2 separate regions of the Homo sapiens genome follow, and region 2 is reported to be linked to region 1. Evidence: microRNA targets listed by miRTarBase, many of them from high-throughput screens and not tested one by one. Region 1 holds a microRNA gene; the other region holds the end of a gene's coding sequence.
What was found. Region 1 holds the annotated microRNA hsa-miR-199a-5p (CCCAGUGUUCAGACUACCUGUUC, at 1,360-1,382, opposite strand). A microRNA usually pairs through its seed, bases 2 to 8, with sites in the 3' UTR of a target mRNA and lowers its output. Matches are read on the target gene's strand: a 7mer-m8 pairs with bases 2 to 8, a 7mer-A1 pairs with bases 2 to 7 and ends in A, and an 8mer does both.

Region 1 (3,156 bases):
TTTGTTCAGGAACCACTGTAACTTTAAAGGAGGACAAAAGAGATTATGTTTATTTTTCACAAACCCTGTAGAAGAGATGTTTTCATTATATAGAATTGTTTCGGAATAGAAATTAATGGGGGTTAAGAAAATTAGGGATGAGGCAATAACATTTTTCCAGAACTTTCTTTAAGGGGCCGACCTCTAAAGTTCAGCACAGATCACATTGCAATCCAGACTTGCTCTATTATTTTCTCTATTAGGATTTCATTCAGCTTGAGGGTTTTCTTCCCTCCCACCTTCCTCCCCCTCTCCCACCCTCTTTCACCTCCAGGACAGCTGGAAACTGACCAAAGAAAACTTCTGCCTTCGTTTACAAATTCCTTTTTTATCAGTGGGTTTCTAGACAAAGTGCCTTATTTTAAATGCTCAGAGAAGTGGAAGCATTGTAAGCTATAGGCAAGAGGGCTCAGCTGAGCAGCAATTATTAACCACTCTTTGATTTAAAAAAAATGTAAAACAGATATTTACAGGGGTATCTAAAGATAGAGGTTTTTATTCCCTGATTTACTCAGTTGCTGACTCAATAAGTTGTGGGTCGGTGCTCTTCTCTGGGCAAATCCCATCTGCATTGTCTGGTAGGCAAGACTTGGCAGGTTCTTCTTTTATTGTTAGGTACTATTATTCCTGTTGTTTATATTACAGAAGGAAATCTTCAGAAAAGCACTATCCATATAGCATTTAAAAACCAGCAAGTATTCTTTACTTTGGGGAAAAATGACTTCAGTCCTGGGATGTTAAAAGTTATACATACAGCCTTCATCCATATAAGTTTTTAAATCTTTGAATTATTATTAAACAATTCAAAAGTAGCCTCATTAAACTATTCTTAAGTGTCTGGAATGAGTTTTTTCATATTTCATTTTGAAGTGGGAAAACCTTTAAGAAAACACTTGAATTATCAATCTTCAGAAATAAAAAAAAAAAAAACAGTAAATCGCTATATACCACACACTTTTGCTCTTTTAAAATTAAATACATCTCTACCCATCACACATGTACCTCTGTTTCCCTTGCATGTTAACACAAATCATGGGCTCCCCACCTAGGTTCCCTTGGTCACAGACCAGGTGAGCAGTCAAGAAGGCCTTACCCGCTGGTCTTCCCTTCGGCAGTCTTTTCTCAGCAGTGTCCCCGAGGGCTTCTTGGTCCCTAGTGTGCAAAACCTGTGAAGAAAAACACTGGATATGAGATTCAAAAAAGGAGCAAACAAATGTCTTCTCCTTGGAAACAGCCCATTTTGTCCCCAGCGGTCCATGGCGTTGCTCTCCCTTGCCCAGTCTAACCAATGTGCAGACTACTGTACAACGGCATTGTCCTGAACAGGTAGTCTGAACACTGGGGCGACGGAGCAGGATCTCCAGAAGCTTCCTTCTATGTACTTAAAATCCTCTCCCGGTCCTCAGGAAAAGCCTCCCTTCCTGCACCAGGGGTTGCATTCAGCTTTCCCCCCTGAATTCTGCTGCGCTGACTGAGACACACTCAAGGGCTGTGATTTCCAGTCTTGACGTGGCACATTTGCTGCAGACTGGGGAACTGGCAATGAATTTAGGACCAGGAAAAGGGGGAGGGCTGGGCTGGAGAGTCCATATATGGGATGATGTCACCCTGGGGAGGTTTGGGTATGCGCTGTGCCGCTGGAGAGACCGCTAGAATCGCCTGCTCTCAGACATGGGTCTGTGCATAAAATGGTACCAGATGTTTTAGTGTAACGTTAAGCAGTCATTTCATCTTCAGGCCAGATTTTTTTCCTCAACTGGGCAGGAAGTGGGCCCCAGTATGGAAAAGCTGTAAAAAAAAAAGAGTCAAGATGTACAGTTCGGCTGTGGCCAACTGAAAGTGAGTTAGTGTAGAAGTACAAATTTACTGTCTGACCCAGGCTAGAGAAGTAATTTGAAGATAGAGGGTAGATGAAATAGTAAACAGAAAGTTGAACACTGGAAGGCAGAGCTCATTTGGAAACCTTTTTGAGCTTTCCTGTGGCACTTTATTTTCTGGTATTTCACTCGTCAAAAAGGGCAGATAAGTTTCTGTCTGTCTGTCTGTCTGTCTGTCTCTCTCTCTCTCTCTCTCTCCCCCTCTTCCCCTCTCCCTCCCTCTCTCTCCCTCCCTCCCTCCTTCCCTCCCGCTCTCTCTCTCTTTCTCTCCTTCTCTCTCTCCCTCCTTCTCCTGTCTGTTGAATCTGTCAGCAGCTTGCAGGCTGCTCTAGACTTGAACAGTAATTATAGCAACTTCCTGAAAGTGAAGCCCCCATGAAAAGTCTGGAGAAATGTTCTTTGTCATGGCCTCTACATGAGTAATTAGTTCCACATGTGGCCTTCCTAGTTTCCCTCAGCTATTTTGGCTGGGTCTCTGAATGCTGTGCTATAGTTTGACCTAAAGAAACGTTACAGTTTTTGTTTGAAGCATCCACTACGAAACAACGACTCAGGTCTTCTAACAAATCGCCTCTGGTAGATCCATGCTGTTAGGTATAGCATTGTTTTTCACTTGTAATTCCTGATTCTGTTTTGATACTTTTGTTTTGTTTTCATGGTATTCTGTGGCTTAGTTTTATCTCTGGTTAACTAAATCTGTTGAAATTTGCCAAGTACCGCTTGACCAAAGGTTATAAGATATCAGCCCACTGGCATCTACTTTTCTTTCCCTGTTGTGGCTGTTTTCAATTATATATACTCTTGAATATTCTGAATATGTAGTTCTCTCACTTTCCCTCCATAGGATTCTGATCAAAGCTAGAGTCGCCTCAAACAAGAGCTTGATTAATTGCCCTTCTGAAGATCAAAATGTGAGAAAATTTCTAGGTAGCTTCCAAATTTAATTTGACCAACCAGACTAAGAAACTTAGCCTTCTTTAAAGAAAGTACAGCCAAAGCAATTCATTTCCACTGGCCTTCTGAAATACTTTTTAGAAGTAGAAAAATATATCTCTTTTTTATACGCTGCATTGTATATTTCAAAAAGCTTCAAGTGAGTACTGTCCTAAAGCATTTGCTTTTCATAAAATGGCCTCTTTTGAATCATTAAATAGCACACTACTGAAGAGTTCAAAAGTTATGACAAGCCCTTGTTATCTTGTGAGGAAGATTAAATAAGATAAACATGAATTATCTGGCA
Region 2 (3,156 bases), not on the chromosome of region 1:
CAGGTGTCCTAAGACCACCATCACCTTACCAATGTCAGACTCCACTGAGGGGACAGAGTGTTGTGGCCTCAGTTCCAAAAGTACTTAAACCTCAAATTCTAATGTACTTAATATAAACATTCCAGAATCTCTCCTCTGTTATCTCTGCCAAGCTTCTGGCAAAGAAAGACATTTGAATCTTTCTATTATAACACTTTCTTAAAAGAATTTTTTGTTTTGAAAGAGAGCACTTTTTGGGAATTCTTTTAGGAAGGGCTCAAAGTTGATTCCAATTTGGGTTGTGGTTTCTAAGTGACTTGTGTATAAACCAGTTAAACAGAGACTTGCCGCTTGATGATGGAATGTTTTGAGTAGAGAATGGATCTGGGGTTAACATCCTTCCTCCAACTCCTTCATGCTGGGTGTGGAGAGGAAGAACGAGGACTATCACAAAGAATTTATATAAACAAAATACTTTATTATTGAGAGAGTAAAGGCCCAATTACAAAATTTTTATACTTAAGATCTGTTTATTACCATGCCAATGGTTTATAAGGACTGTAGTTTCCATAACTGTTAGGCTGAACCCCATGAAACTCCTTCTTTGTAGATAAAAGCCAGCCTAATATTGGCAATTTCACGTGGTTCAACCTCACATACAATGAGCCACTGCCTAGGATTCTTTTGGCAGCAAGATGTTCCCAGTCACATGTCTGTTTATATTATAAACAGATGTCCAAGTGATAAATACATCCCTCTTGAGAAAAACATCCTGTGCTTATGTATACTGGGAATGGTCTTTTGTGGGTATTGAGGCAGCGCAGCTCTGGCTTTGCTCTTCCCAGCTTGCCCGGCCACCCGATTCCTCAGTTTCATCACAGGAGGATTCTTTACAGATGTCAGCCACCCGTCCAAGGCCACGCAGCTAGTAAACAGACAAGCCTGTCGGACTTTGAAACCAACTTGACCGGGTCATTTATAAAGGCCGGGAATACACATGACTCAGGTGCTCTTTTGAAACGACTACAAAAGTCTCCATTTTGATCAAAACGTTTTCTCCGAATGAATGGCTCCGATGCTTTCTCTTTCCCATCTTAAGTCCCCGCTCTGTGCCTCAGAATAGTCTGTGTCCAAGAAAATAAGAATCACGTCATCTTGCTGTGGACACTGAGCAAAAAGGAGCAGCATGCTATTAAGATGGTTGAGACACACGAGTGAACAAAGATGGGACAAACTGTGCTTCGTTCAAGAGGTTTCATCAAGACCCCTACCGCCCCCCGTCCTTCAGCTCTGTACAGTAACTTTAACTTTACATAGAGCTGAGATAAAAATAAAGCTTTCTTACAAATTACATTTTTTTTCCAGTGAATTACTTTTGCAGTAAAAATAGCTGCTACATAAATCCCTCCTGATCTCTGAAAAGGAGTTGCATATTTCCAAAAATAATATTCTTATTTTAATCACACAGAAGAACGTGGAGCACAGGAAGGAAATGGCTGGGTGGTCAGAGAGAGGTGAGCTGTCGGAGAAACACAGTTAAACTAAAAAATAAAATCCATTTTGTGTATAAACTGACTTAAACGCATGCAAAGAAGTGGAAAACATATGCCATTTGTCAAGAAAAATACTGCTTTATAGCTTTTACTTTACAATTAAAGGAGAAAGCAGAGGCCAGATATAAGCCCAGATAATAACATTTAAGTTTCTCATAAAAACTCCCAAATGTACAAAGTCCTTGCCAGACAACCAAGGCAAGAAAACCCCCCAAAAACAAACAAACAAACAAACAAAAAAACACAAAAAGCAGGGATTACCCCCCACAGGCCTTATCCCTGTAAGTCTATTAAATGTAAATAATACATACTTTACAACTTCTCTTAGTCGGCCCTTGGCAGATTAAATCTTTGCAAAATTCCATATGTGCTATTGAAAAATGAAATAAAACCTCAGATGTCTGAATTCTTATTTCAAATACAGTTATATAATTATTTTAAATTACAATATACAATTTCTGTTAAATACAACTGTTAAGGGATTCTGAGAACAATTATAAGATTATAATAATATATACAAACTAACTTCTGAAATGACATGGTTGTTTCCTTCCCACCCTCCTACCCTCTCAAAGAGTTTTTGCATTTGCTGTTCCTGGTTGCAAAAGGCAAAAGAAAATCTAAAAATAGTCTGTGTGTGTCCACGACATGCTCGCTCCTTTGAGAATCTCAAACAGCCAGAACCATCCCGTCCCACGGACTGCCAGGCGCCAGGACGGCTTCCTGGTGCCTCTTTCTCGACCATTTTCACTTAAAAGCACTGTGAGTAGAATTAGCTGTGCCGTTGCTGCCACAAGGGAGGCAGCCTGGTCAAGAGGCGTGGTTTGGGATGCAATAAGGCCACTGCTTCTTGGCCACTTTCCTGGACATTTTCAATCCTGCCTTTCCTGGGTCCTCGGAGCAGCTGGTCAGGATGGGCTTCCCACTCAGTCCACGAGCCTGGGGCCGGCTCAGGGTGGTCCCGGCGACCTCAGTCCTCCGTGTCGGGCTGGACGCCCAGGATGGCGTGCAGTTCCTCGGGCGTGAACCCCAGCAAGTTCTGGAGGTCGCACACGAAGCGGTACACGTAGCGCTTCCCCGACGTCTTGTGGATGATGTTCTTGTCGTAATAGTAGCGTAAGCCCCGGCTCAGCTTCTCGTAGTTCATCTTGGGCTTATTTTTCCTCTTTCCCCACCGGCGGGCCACCTTTGGTGAACATGGATGGAAAAGAGTTAAACTCAATTTGTCAATGAAGAAAAAGTGAATGACATTCCTCCCTGATTATGATTCTGAGGCATGTTCACTCTAGAGAGAACTTGACACCTACACAAGGTCCGCAGGAGGACCTTTTGAGTACCTCTGAGTACCTTTGAGTACCTATGGTAGGGGCACTGTGTCCCCAAGGGGCAGAACCACTGGGGAATGAGGTCCCTGCTCCCTGGCCCCAGCTCAGTGAAACCTCCTGGGAGCCAAGGGTTCAGAGCCAGGAGGGTCCTGAGACCAGGGAAAGGTGGTGTCACCCACCCTCCAGGCTGGATATTCCAACTACTGAAGTTAACAGGTGCCGAGTGGGATTCTGAGCTGTGTGATATACTCATTCCTCAATGCTTGTCTCCCAAGGGAACTGGAGGCGGGGTGGGAATG

Region 2: miRTarBase lists ETS2 as a target of hsa-miR-199a-5p. Seed matches in the 3' UTR shown: 7mer-A1 at 1,340-1,346.

What each region holds. Positions count from the first base shown.
Region 1 is chr1:172,143,233-172,146,388 of GRCh38, forward strand. It overlaps MIR199A2 (microRNA 199a-2), which reads right to left and starts at 1,412; the gene lies at 1,303-1,412. The region is part of intron 14 of DNM3 (dynamin 3); the gene reads left to right. It overlaps DNM3OS (DNM3 opposite strand/antisense RNA), which reads right to left and starts at 1,603. Exons shown (of 4, transcript NR_103486.1): 1 at 1,422-1,603; 2 at 1,133-1,205.
Region 2 is chr21:38,822,236-38,825,391 of GRCh38, reverse strand. It overlaps ETS2 (ETS proto-oncogene 2, transcription factor), which reads right to left. Exons shown (of 10, transcript NM_005239.6): 10 at 437-2,718. The coding sequence ends at 2,503. Among named protein-coding and RNA genes, the nearest start is that of ETS2, 18 kb to the right of the region's middle. RefSeq lists an enhancer at 2,454-2,991.